4 linked regions of the Homo sapiens genome follow. The protein of the gene in region 2 purifies or fractionates together with the protein of the main gene of each other region. This does not show direct contact. Each region holds a gene or a part of one and is shown on either strand. Other genes may lie near its edges.

Region 1 (3,570 bases), on a different chromosome or scaffold from region 2:
CCCCATTCCCCTCTCTGCCCAGCCCCTGACAACCACCCTTCTACTCTCTGTCCCTGCGATTTTGACTAAGTATCTAATGTAAGTGGAATCACACAGTATTTGTTTTTTTGTGATTGGCTTATTTCACATAGTTTAATGTCCTCAGGGTTCATCTATGTTGTAGCATGTGTCAGAATTTCTTTCCTTTTTGGCCGGGCACAGTGGCTCAGGCCTGTAATCCCAACACTTTGGAAGGCCGATCACTTGAGGTCAGGAGTTCGAGACCAGCCTGGCCAACATGGTGAAACCCCATCTCTACTAAAAATACACAAATTAGCTGGGTGTGGTGGTGCATGCCTGTAGTCCAGCTACTCGGGAGGCTCAGGTGGGAGAATCGCTTGAACCTGGGAGGCAGAGGTTGCAGTGAACCAAGATCACAACACTGCACTCTAGCCTGGGTGATAGAGTGAGACCCGGTCTCAAAAAAATAAAAAATACATGAAAAGTTGTAGGGTTGGGTGTAGACTCTGGAAGGTGGATTTTGAGAGCACGACAGTCCACCCAGGCTAAGGAGAGAGAAGAAGGGTGCAGTCATCCAGAGAACCGGAAGTCTGTCCTCGCGTGCTGAGGAGTTGGATGCTAGGGCCAGGCGTAACCTTTGTCTGTTTGTCTCCAGTGCCAGCACCAGCGCCAACCCCCCAGCAGGCCCCACCGCCTCCATCCCTGGTCCCCTTGGAGGCTACTGACAGCCTGCTGGAGCTGCCGCACCCACTCCTGCAGCAGACTGAGGACCAGTTCCTGTCCCCGACCCTGGCGTGCAGCTCCCCTCTGATCAGCTTCTCCCCATCCTTGGACCAGGACGACTACCTGTGGGGCTTGGAGGCGGGTGAGGGCATCAGCGATCTCTTCGACTCCTACGACCTTGGGGACCTGTTGATTAATTGAGTGGCCCTGCCTGCCCCCAGCAGCCTGCCCCCGACTCTACCTCCTCACAGACAGGCTGACAGCCCCTCTGCCTGCACAGGGACATTGGACACTAGGTGCTGCCCTCAGGGCATGGGGTCTCCTCGCCTTTCCTGCCCCAGCCGGCAGAAGCTGTGTGGGGAGATATGAATGGTACGGGTGAGGAGTGGATAAGGGGTGGTCCTCACCTTCCTAATGGAAGCTGGGCCTAGGGAGGCCCATCCAGTCTTCTGACTTCTGACCTCTCACAAGAAGGCTGCAGGTGAGGTGGCCAAGTCCAGGGAAAGGCCCTGCTACCTCCTTTTGAGGGGTAATTAGGACCCTCGACGTACCAAGAAGCACATAATGCCTTTGTATTTATTTCAGGTTGAGTTGTTTGTTTGTCCTCCCTGAGTTTTAGCAGGGAGGTTGTTCTAGTTTTTAGTGAGACCTCTGCAGACAGGCCCATCACTGTCCATGTTCCAGGGCAGGTCTGGGTTTCCAAGGGAGGGGCCCAGGCTACATCCTTGGTTTCCCCACTGTGGTGGGGGCTGGGACTCTGAGGGGCTGTCCAGTCTGCTAGAATGCTAATTGCACTTAGGCCTCATGGTTCTAGTAAACGGCAGCTGTGGGCCCTTTTGCCTCTTCCCCTGTTCTTGGCCTCACATCTCCAGCTGAGCTGCCGGTCTTGGCTTCCTGGTCGCCTCTGTCCCAGAGATGGTCCCAGGGAGCCATCCTAGGGCAGGTAGCACTGAGGCTCCTGTGGAAACAGGAGCCACCTGCTCAGGAGACCCCTTTCCTGAGGAAGTCCTTACCTCTCCCCTTGAGATGTAAAAATGGTCCAGCAGAGACAAGCTCCCGTGGAAAACAGACAGGAGCATGGGGGCAGCTGTCATGGCTGTGGCGGGCACTTTTCCTCAGAGTTTCTGCCTTGCGCTGGTCCAGGAGCCATTTTGCACCAAGGACTTGGTAGGCAGAGGCAGCCCCACTGTAAAGAAGGGTCAGATTAAAACAAAAAACTGCCAAAAGCATCCCCTCTGCCCCCCATGTGGCACTGGCATCATTCTCTGCTTCCCTGGGAGGAATTTTTTCACCATGTTATTGAAGGGGATGGTTCATTAAGGACTCCACCCCTCAGAGCTCACTCAGACCCCAAGGACAGAGGTGACTGGGGCTTGGTGACTTGTTCACTCCTTTTTTCCCAGGTATACTGAAGGGGTGACAGAGAGAGGTCTTCATGGCAGACCAGGCCTTCACAGCTAATGGGGAGAGGAACTCATGTTACCTCTGCAGGCCTGGGGTCCTGAGGGGGTCTTTTGGCTTCAGCCTGTTCCCCCAGAGGCTTGATCATCCCACATTGTCCCTTCAGCTCAGCTGCTCTTCTCCCCCACCCACCCTGGGATGTGGGTGCTCTGGGCTGAACCAAGGCTATGACTTCTGGAGAGAGGCTCAGGGGTTGGTCTGAGAGGCCTGCCATCCACCCCTCAGGGAGCTAGGTTTTCTCAGAGGCTCAGCTGGACAGCACTTTTTAGAAAAGTTTGTAGCATTAAGCTGGTTTAAAATATGAAGTTGGTTTTGTTGGATGGCTCCTGAGCTGACTGACTGATGTCTGAAGTTTGAGACGAGGGATTATTTCAGGGTGGGGCCCAATGTGATCTAATGCCCAGCTGGGGACAATTGTGCCTCATCATTTGCTCAAATTCCTGGGCCCCCAAGTTAGCCCCCTCCCAGGAGTGGTCAGCGGGTCACAGCTGCCCCCACTCTATAAGCAGGGCTAATTGTGTACCCTTTGCAGAAATGCTTTTGGTCTCCTACCCAAATACTCACAAGGGTCTTATCAGACGCCCGTCTTAAAGTCCAGCATGCTCAGGGACCCTGTGTAGGATCTCGTTTGTGGTGAGTGGGCTGCTCTGAGGTCTCCACTGGGCTGCCATTTAGCCATGTGCCATCTCTGAAGTCAGAGGTGTTTGACTCCCATTCCTTGGGCTCTGGAGCTTTCCCCAAGAATTACATCAGAGAAAAGGAAGAAGGGGCCTGCAGGACCCATTGGGAATGAGTTTAATACTGAAGTCTGGAATGTAAGCTCATGCCCTAGAGGCCTCTCCATATGGCTGGTCAGGGGAGCTGCCTTCAGGCTTGTGCCCCGTGTGCTCAGCAGCTGCCTCTGTCCCCCTCTACTGTCCCTTTCACACCTTGCCTGGCCAAGGGGCTAGACCTCCCAGGCTAAGCCTCAGATTCAGTGCAGGACACAAGCTCATGCCCCCGTCTTGCCAGTGACACTTGAAGCCTCCCGACTTCCACAGAGTGCTTCAGGACACATTTTGAGTGGTATTTTCTTTTCTTTTTTTCTTCTTTTTTTTTTTTTTTGAGATGGAGTCTCGCTCTGTTGCCCAGGCTGGAGTGCAGTGGCCTGATCTCGGCTCACTGCAACCTCTGCCTCCCAGGTTCAAGCGATTCTTCTGCCTCAGCCTCCAGAGTAGCTGGGACTATAGACATGCACCACCACGCCCGGCTAATTTTGTATTTTTGGTCGAGACGGGGTTTTGCCATGTTAGTCAGGCTGGTCTTGAACTCCTGACCTCAAGTGATCCACCACCTCGGCCTCCCAAAGTGTTGAGATGACAGGCACGAGCCACCAGGCCCAGCCTG
Region 2 (3,570 bases):
TTCAATATTACAGTAATTCCCAATGTGGTGTAAATACAGAGTAACATTTTATTTTAAAGTGATTTAGAAAAAAAGTAAAATTAGAACTCAAACCTGTGATTTCTTGGGTACTGTGTAGAATGAATAAAAGACTTTTAGTTGAGGTTTTGTTTTTATTTTTCTTGAGTAGATTATTATTATTATTTTTGATGAGTAAACGTACCACTTATATTTAGGTCTGGCAGGAAACGTGAAAGTGAAATACTGCTTAGGAAATACCTGTTTGATCTTCAGCAACAAATATAACATGACACGAAGGCCTTCTTCTGGATCGTGGTTCAGTTATAACAATAGCCGCTCCTCCTCTGCTGTGTGCCATTTGCTGCTCTAAAGCACAGTACAATACATAATCTCTTATCCCCATAACAACACTTTGAGATGGTTATTGTTACCTCCATTTTACAAATGAGAACTGGAGCTTGAAATATTTGTCTCCTAAGATTACAAAGGCTAGTGAATGACAGACCCAGATTGGAAACCAGGTCTGTGTATTTCCACCTATGTTCTTAGCCACTTTATTATACTCCCTCACTATCCATGTGTGAAATCTAAGTATTTGGTTTTCCTTCAGTACTTTTGACTTAGCAAAGACAAGTACTTTCAGGAAGCCTTAATTTTTTTTTTTTCGCCCCTTTCACTTTCTCTGTTTTAGCACCACATTAAATACCAGCATTTGCTGAAGAAGAAATATGTATGTCCCCATCCCTCCTGTGGACGACTCTTCAGGCTTCAGAAGCAACTTCTGCGACATGCCAAACATCATACAGGTACTTTTAAAATGTGTTTATCAAGTAGGTAATTGCACTGTGCTTTAGTTTTGCATGTTGGTAATGATAACGTTTTTCTAACATAAGTCTTAAAAGATTCTATAGTCAAGTGCGGGGAAAAGGTGTGAAAATAAAATGTAGTAAGACAAATTTTACAAGGGATGGGCAGACTAGGACTTTTGAATTTTTATCCTTTGACTTCTTGAACTTCTATGACCGGGATAATGATCTTCTATTGAGCATTTATTCTGTATCAACTGTGGACTAAATACGTTATGTATATTATTGCTAATTAGTCTATTCAACACCACTAAATTTGTTTATATTGATCTTATTTTACAGCTAAGAAACTAGAAGCTTGGCAGGATTAAGTAACCTGCCCATGGTCACATAGCTAGTTTTTAGGAGAAGCATAATACTCTGCTGCTATTGAAACTGTGAAGTCTAGCTGTTGAATTTGCATGTAAACTCCCATAGGAACTGTCAAAAAGAGTTGCTGAGTGTCTGCAATATGTATTATAGAATAGACTCAAATTCAATTTATTTGTAACCACTGACCATCTCAGTGCAGTGTACCTAATAGGAACAAATTGGGTGCATACCACTGAGTATGTCCCAGACACTTGATAATTACACATTACCTTCTCAACAGTCTTAGAGAGTAAGTCTAGGAATTCTAGTTGTAGAAATATGTCTCCTGCCCAAGGTCATACTGATAAATGAAATAACTCCTTCATTTACTGTAGGAAAGTTACTTAACTTCTCTTTTCACTTTTCCTTCTCTGTGTATTAAGGATACCAATATCAGTTATTGTAGGGATGAAATGAGATAACATAAAATGCTATTGACTACACAGAGCCTGGCACAATACCAGGATTGAACTTGAATCTTAATCACTCCAAAGTCTACAGTTTTCTTATACCATGTTTCTTCAGAGTTATTTCCACAAGTAACAGTTATTTCTGTTTCTTGATAGGTACTGCAATTTCTCTGTTCCTTCTGCTCCCTGTTAATACTGTTTTATGCCATAGAAAAGTTGTTTCTGACAGCCACTTTAGATTGTTTTAGTTAAATATCAAAAGCGTATGAAAAACTTTTATAAATTCAGTCCATTTCAAATATTTATATTTGGTTAATACAATTTATGATGTTTTACTTTTGCAAATTAGTATATACAGACTTTTTTTTGCAAATGTCATTTATTTAGCAAATAGATGCCCCACACAGGTTTGTCCTGCTATGGAACTGGAAATGTGGACATGACCTGGGAGATGCTAAGAGTTTCCTAAGTTAGAACTGTGCGTTTTTAGACCTTGCTATATAAAGTATGGAATACAGACCAACCAGCATTGACATCATTTGGGTTCTTATTAGAGATACAGAATCTCAGGCCCTGCTTCAGACCTGCTGAATCAGCATATACATTTAATAAGCTATCCAGGTGATCTCTAAGCTGTTTGGAAAGGAGTATAAGATTAAATTGGATATTGTTCACCTTTTAACTTAAATTCATGTTTTCATTCTCATTAATTCTGGTAATTTGAAGCAAAAGGAGTAGAAAATGTAGTGGTCATTAATTCAACAAATATATATAGAGAGCATCTCTTTGTGCACGGGCTTCCCAAACACGGTAAAGAAATGAATAAGTACAATGCTCCTTTTTCCTCCTCATAGATTCCACACCGTGTTACCACATTCATCAGAAATCCTGCATAATGGGGTTGAGGGTGTTGTGAGTGACAAAGGGAGGTAGTTGAAAGGTGCAGAAGATGGGTAGGAGAATAAGGTAAAGTAGTACAGGTGTTATTTACATATATTTGATAGCAGCAACTCCAGTCTTTTGAGAAAAGTTTATCTTGAGTAACATTTTTTAAACCTGAAACAGGGTATGATTACCTTTAGATCAGTTTTCTTCTATACAGTGCCAAGTTCTTGTTTTTTGTTTTTGTTTTGTTTGAATGCCAGATTCTTTCTGTGTAATCATTCAGTTTTCATTGTCTGTGAAAAAAATTGTTTACTCCTTAAAGGAGTAAAATATATGGAAAATATAGTTGTTTACTTGCTAACCACTTGGTATCCAAGACCTGGATTAGTGGTAAAATTGAGATTAGGATTCCATTTCTTATATTTTTATCTAGTTTTTCTGTTTGTTTTTGTTTTTTTTTAAACAGGTCCTTATGCTACTGAATGTTGGATTTTTTTTAAAGCAATACTTTTCTTTTTTAAATTTTGTTTACCCAAAGTGTTTATACATTGAAAACAGCATTGCTTTTACTCTAAATTGCCTGCCCCATCATCTGCTTACTTACTGTAAGGGAAAATATTTACAGGGTATCTAAATAGAACACTAACCACAGTATTTTCTTCATAGATCAAAGGGATTATATCTGTGAATATTGTGCTCGGGCCTTCAAGAGTTCCCACAATCTGGCAGTGCACCGGATGATTCACACTGGCGAGAAGCCATTACAGTGAGTATTATTTACTGGTGAACATCTGGGTGAGAAGGATATATGCCCTACTTGAAGGTTTGCCGCTTTACAAACATATTAGTTGCCACTGCTGTTTACTTTCATCAAATAAATGAGTGGATATTGATTGGGGGCATTAGTTAGTAGCCTTTTTCTTAGTTTCCCTCTGTTTTTCAGGCAAACAGAAGAAGATCAGATTAGTTTTCCATCTAGTAACATTTCCCAATCCTTCAAAAGAAGTATGTTACTGATTATTGTGTGTGTGTGTGTGTGTGTGTGTGTGTATGTATAT
Region 3 (3,570 bases), about 19 Mb from region 2:
CCTATTTGGCAGGCATAGAAACTAAGGCTCAATAGATTAAGGTGCTTAAGAGTCTATAGTTAATGGTAGAATATGATTTCCAACCCAAGTCTGAGTCCAAAGCCACAAAATTATATACCTTGCCATAGTATCATGGTTTCCAAACTGCACCAAGGCACCCTAGAGCATTGTTGCCAACTCCATCTGATAGTTTAAATTTTCAAGTAGGATACAGTGGTAGCCGAAATTTGCTGGTTGCCAGGTGAGCTACTGCCTTGACATACTTCATGGTTTCAAGGTTGTGCCACATTTCTATAGATGATATGTCTTTGTGAAGCTGGTTTTTTAGCGGTTGCTGTGGTAAAATTCACAAAAAAGTCAGTATGCAGCAGGAAAGAGGATAGCAGGGTCCACTCTGATTCCAAGGTTTGAAAAGTTGTGCAGTGCCCAACAGTAATACACATTTCACAAGTAATTATGGTTAAGAATGAAGTAAAAACATTATTTGTTGAAATTTAGCTAGGTTATTTTTTCACATGGCTACTGACTACTTAATAAGTGGAAGTGTTATTATTTCTGGCCTAGGGCTGCTGTGAGAAAATTACTGAGATACTGAGGGTGCCGTGAAGCTAGAATGTTTGAGAACCTTTGCTCTAGAAACTATCATTGAATTTCGGGGCAAGAAAGAAGGGACTATTGTGTCATTGCCTTTATTTTTCAGGAGGAAAATCAAGCTACAGAGAGAGATTTCAAGTGTATACAGCTAACTGTTGGTGTTAGTCAAATTCTTATTTGAAAAGCCCACATATATGCTGAAATTGTCAACAAAAAATTTAGATTTATAGTTGATACTAGTTATAAAAGGATGTGCCAAATGAAGGTGGTGTTTTATCCTCCTCTCCCTGCAGTCTACTTTAGTCCTCCCAATTCTGTGCTTTGTGTGGACTTCCCCAGGTTTCTCCTAACTGGAGGTAGATGATGGTGGTTATGGATAAAGTTGACGTTGACTTTGTGAGATCCCTGACACCCAAGGCTCCTAAGTATCTTTCCTCTCCTGCAGAGAATATTTCTTTTCAAGAGGAAACTATACTACTGTATTCTTTAAAAACAGTCTGGATATTGGTTGAGATGTTACATATATCTAATAAATTTATTAAGGTAAATACAGATAATGTGTTAGGATTCTCATAGTTTATACTATGGTTGGCTGAATTAGTTGTATGATATTAAGTAAGTTGAGCCATTAGTTTTTTGTTTCATTTTTGCATTTAATGATTTGAATTTTAACTCGAAGTGAAAATATCAAAGTTAAAAAAATGCCTTTTTAACTGGAATTGTAACTATAACTTACTATGGTCTCTCTTACTGGTACTGTAACTGATCTGTGTGTAACAATATATTTTTAGGTGCATTTGATAAAGTGGAAAGGTGATTACTGTAACTGGGGCCACATGTGTTGATTTAAACAAAAGATTTTACCAGGTGCATGTACTAGAGGTTGCATGAGTCTACAGTGGTAGACACTGGTAGGGCATACATACATTAATAGTAGTATTGCTGGGGCCAGAGCCTGGTTAGGTTGAAACTTTTTAGTTGTGTCTCTTCTGCCTTTGAAAAAGCAAATATTCTTTAGGGCACTTATTAGATGAAAAGAGAGAAACAGATTTCATCTCCACCATTTTCGATATGTCATAGAGTAAAGTTACGGAGGTTTGGAGGGAGGTTGTTGTCATTGTCCTAGGAACTAGGAGGTAATGGAGACAGAGGGACTTGTCTGGCTAACATGAGCCTGTTAATGCAAACTGGCTTACTTTTTAGTCTTTTAATGATTAAGAAGTTTGCCTTAAATTTAGATGTTTTGTTAAGTTCTTAAACAGACCTCACCGGTAAGAAGGTAAGCAAGCATTTATTAGTGAGGTTATTCACTTAATATATATATTGAGCATCTGCTATGTACAGATGTAGCTACAGTAAATATTGTGGGGATTATTTTTTTAAAAAAACATTAAACATGAGCCTTTTAAAAGAAATTTCTAATCTAGTAAGAAATAGCTAAACTGAGCTTGAAACTAATGACATCATTCAAAGACTTAGTTTTTTTTCTCTGAGATTTTATCAAGTGGAGCAATAGTCCGTGCATTCTAGTCTACAGTTGTAAACTAAAATTATCTAACAATTTTATGGTGAGATGTATGACCACATGCAATATGAAAAAGAATAATTCAGGCCTAAAGTACATGTTAAACTGAATCATGTATTCAAGGAAGACAGTTATGTGTGTTGTTAGATTTAATAAAATTTTACTCTACCTGATGGGTATAGTCTTAATATATTATGCTTGGCTTTTTTTGTTTGTTTTCTGTTTTTATTGTAGAGTAGATCCCACAAAAGGTATTAGGGTATTTTCTATTTTCTTTTAAAAACATTTAATTATATGGGCAATTATAATGTACACTTTGTAATTACATATGTTCTAGCAGGCTTTGATTTTTAATTTGTTTAGCTTTATATGGTCATATCTGTACGTTAGGTTTGCATTAGCTAACTTTTAAACATTTTTGCTCGCTCTTGTACTGTTGGGCACAAGCAGTGCCTCCAGGCAAATTGATGCCTAAACTAGAGAGAACAGCAGGCATTCTCTCCTTACTCTTCCACTTCCCCTTTACTTCCATTTCCTGATCCTCATGTCTGAAGTCACACCACCTTTAGCCATTTGAAGGGGCTGCTTCTTCCATTTTACGCTTTCTTTCACTTGTATGCCATAAAGTGCAGTGCCTGCTAGCTCCAGTGTGCTCTGTATGAGGTTTGCACCAGTGTGTTAGGAAGAAAGGAGGCACTGAAATTAAAAAAAAACCATATTTTGGGGGTTTCCAAGTCACTAAACAATTGAACCACAATAATAGAGGAAACTGACTTAAACAGTATTAAACTGGTATTGCTTCAAACATTATCAAAGGATTTCTGAGGTGAATGCCTACTTTATAAAAATGTATTTTTTCGGCTGGGCACGGTGGCTCATGCCTGTAATCCCAGCACTTAGGGAGGCCCAGGCGGCGGATCACCTGAGGTCAGGAGTTTGAGACCAGCCTGGCGAACATGGTGAAACCCCATCTGTACTAAAAATACAAAAATTAGTCAGACCTGGTGTCAGGCGCCTGTAATCCCAGCTACTCGGGAGACCGAGGCAGGAGAATCGCTTGAACCTGGGAGGCAGAGGTTGCAGTGAGCCAAGATGGTGCCACTGCACTCCAGCCTGGGTGACAGAGCGAGACTCTGTCCTTTTTTTTCCCCCCCAGAGTTAGGGCCTTGAATTCCTGGGCTCAAGAAATCCTCCTGCCCCAACCTCCCGAGTAGTTGGAACTACAGGCACATGCCACCATGCCCAGCTAATTTTTAAAAATTTTTTTGGTAGAGAATGAGGTCTTGCTGTATTGTCCAGGCTGGTCTTGAACTCCTGGACTCAGGTGATACTCCCACCTCGGCCTCCCAAAGTGCTGGGGTTACAGGCATGAGTCACCACTTGTGGCCAAAACTTTTTTTTTTTTTGAGACAGTCTCGCTCTGTGGCCCAGGCTGGAGTGCAGTGGCGCGA
Region 4 (3,570 bases), on a different chromosome or scaffold from region 2:
GACCACTGTGATGTGTTTATTTATTATTTGTCCTTCCAGTCCACCTCCACACGTGCATATGTCAACTTTGTGTGTGTGTGATGTGGGGGAGGGGGGTGTACTCTTGAAAAATACACAATAGAATTATTTGGAGTATTTGTTGCTAATTTACAGAAATGATACTATGCTGTAAATCCTATCTGATTCTTACATTTTCATTCAACCTATATTTTTGGAGCTATTTCTGTTGCTCTAACCAACAGCCAGTTCACTACTGACTTTTGCAAATCTTCCTTCATAGTCATGGGCCATTTCCTTCATGATGGGACACCCATATTTCTTCTAACTCCCTTATACATGTAGTCCTGTATATCCTTCAACTTATGCAAACTCCATCACAATATTATAGACTTTGCTAGAGTTTCTTGGGGCATATATTCAGGAGTTATGCACATATATAACTTCACAGAATAATATCAGATTGCATCCCAGGGCAGTCACACTAGTTGACACTTACACCAATAGTGCATTAAGTTAGCTTCTCCCACATTCTGTAAACTGATATCTTCATAGTTTCAATTTTTATTTCTCTTTATCACTAGGAATGTTGGGCATCTCTTCAATTACATATTAACTGTTCATCTTACACCTTCTTTGAGTTGTCTGTTAATATCATTTGTTCATTTGTCTTTTGAATCTCATGCCTTTTTCCTCTTGATTTTCAGAGTTCCTTTTACAGTTGATATTGTAATCCTTAGCCCTTTGAGAAGATGCAGTGTCTTTTGCAAGTCCTTTCCCCTTTGAGTAGTCTTGCACTCTGTTGAAGATGATTTGAACATATACACAAGGGTTTATTACTGTGCTGTCTGTTCTATTCCATATGTCTATTCTTTATGCCAGTGTCATGCTGTTTTGATTACTGTAGCTTTGTAATATGTTTTGAAATGAGGAAGTTTGAATCCTCCAACTTTATTCTTCTTTTTTCAAAATCCTTTTGGCTATCCAGGGTCTCCTGATATTTCATAAAGATTTTTGGATGAAGTTTTTCAAAAAATGCCATCGTTATTTTGATAGGGATTATGTTGACTCTATAGATTGCTTTGGTTAATATGGACATCTTAACAATATTAAGTCTTCTAACTCATGAACATGCGATATATTTCCATTTATTTGTATCTTCATTTCTTTCAGCAGTGTTTTATAATTTTTATTTTACAAGCCATTCACCCCCTTGGTTAGGCTTATTACTAAGTAATTTATTCTTTTTTGTGCTATTGAAAATTGTTTTCTTAATTCCCTTTTCAGATCATTCATTGTTAGTGCATGGAAATGCAACTGATTTTTGTGTGTTGATTTTGTATCCTATGATTTTGCTGAATGTGTTTATTATTTAAACAGTTTTATGGAATCTTTAGGGTTTTCTACATATAAAATTATGTCATCTGCAAACAGATATAATTTTACTTCTTCCTTTCCATTTTGGATGCCCTTTATTTCTTTTTCATGCCTACTTACTGTGGCTAGAACTTCTAATACTGTGTTAAATAGAAGTGGCAAAAGTGGACATCCTTGCATTGTACCTGATCTTAGAGGAACAGTTTTCAGTCTTTCACCGTTGAGTACAGTATTAACTGTGGTCTTTTCATAAATGTCCTTTATTACGTTGAGTTAGTTTTTTTTCTATTCCTAGTTTGTTGAATGTATTTATTATTATTAAGAAAGGGTGTTAAATCTTGTCAGATGCTTTTTCTGCATCAATTGAGATGATCATGTGGCTTTTGCCCTTCATTCTGTTAATGTAATGTATTAATTGATTTTCATATGTTGAACCATCCTTGCATTCCAGGAGTATCATAATGTATAATCCTTTTAATATGCTATTGAATTTGGTTTGTTGAGAATTTTTGCATCAGTAGTCATCAGAGATACTGGTTTGTAGCTTTTTTTACCCTTCTTCATGTCTTTGGCTTTGATATCAGGGTACTGCTGGCATCATAGAGTGAGCTTGGAAATGTTCTCTTTAGTTTTTTTGGGAGTCTCAGGAGGATTGGTGGTAATTATTCTTAAATGTTTGGTAGAATTCTCTAGTGAAAACATTTGGTCCTGGGCTTTTTTTTTTGAGATGGAGTCTCGCTCTGTCACCCAGGTTAGAGTGCAGTGGCACAATCTTGGCTCACTGCAGCCTCTGCCTCCTGGGTTCAAGTGATTCTCCTGCTTCAGCCTCCCGAGTAGCTGGGATTACAGGTGCCTACCACCATGCCCAGCTAATTTTTGTATTTTTAGTAGAGATAGAGTTTCACCATGTTGGTCAGGCTGATCTTGAATTCCTGACCTCAGGTGATTCACCTGCCTCGGCCTCCCAAAGTGCTGGGATTACAGGCATGAGCCACTGCCCCCAGCCATGGGCTTTTCTTAATTGGGAAATTTTTGATTACTGACCCAATATTCTTATCCATTAATAGTTTGAATGAATTGTTTTTCATATTCATTATTCCTGCTATCATTTGGTTACCATCTGCATGGAATATATTTTTCCATCCTTTCACTTTCGGCCTATGTATCCTTAGATCCAAAATTAGTCTCTTATAGACAGTACATAGTTGAATTGTTTTTTTTTTTTAATCCATTTACCCAATCTGTATCTTTTGATTGGGGAGTTTATTCATTGACATTTAAAGTAATCACTGATAGGGAAGACTTACTGTTGCCATTTTGCTGTTTTCTATATGCTTGTAGCTTTTTGCTTGTTTTTCCCTTATTCTCTTACTGCCTTCCTTTGTGTTTCTTTCATTATTTTTTCTAATGATAGGTGTATTAGTCCATTTCCATTTTCATTGCTGATAAAGACATACCTGAGACTGGGCAATTTACAAAAGAAAGAGGTTTAATGGACTAACAGTTCCACCTGGCTGGGGAGGCCTCACAATCATGGCAGAATGTGAAAGGCACAATTCACATGGCAGCAGACAAAAGAGAGCTAGCTTGTGCAGGGAAACTCCCCTTTATAAAATCATCACATCTCATGATACTTATTCACTATCACAAGAGTAGCATGGTAAAGACCTGCCCCTATGATTCGATTACCTCCCACTGGGTCCCTCCGACAATACATGGGAATTGTGGGAGCTACAATTCAAGATGGGATTTTGGTGGGGACATAGCTAAACCATATCTATAGGATTCTCATTTATTTTATTTTTTCCTTTTGTCTCCGTGGGGTACAAAATCTCATTTCTTTTTGTGTATATTCTACAGGTATTTTCTTTGTGGTTACCATTGCAATTACATAAGACATCTTTAAATTATAGCATTCTATTTTAACTTAAACTTCAATTACATAGTAAAACTTTACTTCTTTACTTCCACCCCTTCACACTTTGTTATTGAAGTCACAAATTACATCTTTATATACTGTATATCCATTAATATACATTGTAGTTGTAATGTTTTTGTCATTTAAATTTTATGCACCAAAATTACAATAGTATTGGTTACTGTATTTGTCCATGTGCCTCCCTTTACAGGAGAACCTTATTTTTCCATACAGCTTAATGTTGCTATTTACTGTCTTTCTATTTCAACTTGAAGGAC

The links.
Region 1: the proteins of ZFP91 (region 2) and E2F2 purify together in Homo sapiens (affinity purification with western blotting; one study listed by BioGRID). This does not show direct contact.
Region 3: the proteins of ZFP91 (region 2) and RSF1 fractionate together in Homo sapiens (co-fractionation; one large-scale study listed by BioGRID). This does not show direct contact.
Region 4: the proteins of ZFP91 (region 2) and ADARB1 purify together in Homo sapiens (co-immunoprecipitation; one large-scale study listed by IntAct). This does not show direct contact.

Annotation. Positions count from the first base shown.
Region 1 is NC_000001.11:23,507,234-23,510,803, reverse strand, and holds part of E2F2 (transcription factor E2F2), read left to right. Parts: intron 1-655; coding exon 656-924; 3' UTR 925-3,570. UniProt on the Homo sapiens protein: Transcription activator that binds DNA cooperatively with DP proteins through the E2 recognition site, 5'-TTTC[CG]CGC-3' found in the promoter region of a number of genes whose products are involved in cell cycle regulation or in DNA replication.
Region 2 is NC_000011.10:58,613,538-58,617,107, forward strand, and holds part of ZFP91 (E3 ubiquitin-protein ligase ZFP91), read left to right. Parts: intron 1-691; coding exon 692-806; intron 807-3,178; coding exon 3,179-3,278; intron 3,279-3,570. UniProt on the Homo sapiens protein: Atypical E3 ubiquitin-protein ligase that mediates 'Lys-63'-linked ubiquitination of MAP3K14/NIK, leading to stabilize and activate MAP3K14/NIK. It thereby acts as an activator of the non-canonical NF-kappa-B2/NFKB2 pathway.
Region 3 is NC_000011.10:77,814,153-77,817,722, reverse strand, and holds part of RSF1 (remodeling and spacing factor 1), read left to right. Parts: intron 1-3,570. UniProt on the Homo sapiens protein: Regulatory subunit of the ATP-dependent RSF-1 and RSF-5 ISWI chromatin-remodeling complexes, which form ordered nucleosome arrays on chromatin and facilitate access to DNA during DNA-templated processes such as DNA replication, transcription, and repair.
Region 4 is NC_000021.9:45,186,027-45,189,596, forward strand, and holds part of ADARB1 (double-stranded RNA-specific editase 1), read left to right. Parts: intron 1-3,570. UniProt on the Homo sapiens protein: Catalyzes the hydrolytic deamination of adenosine to inosine in double-stranded RNA (dsRNA) referred to as A-to-I RNA editing.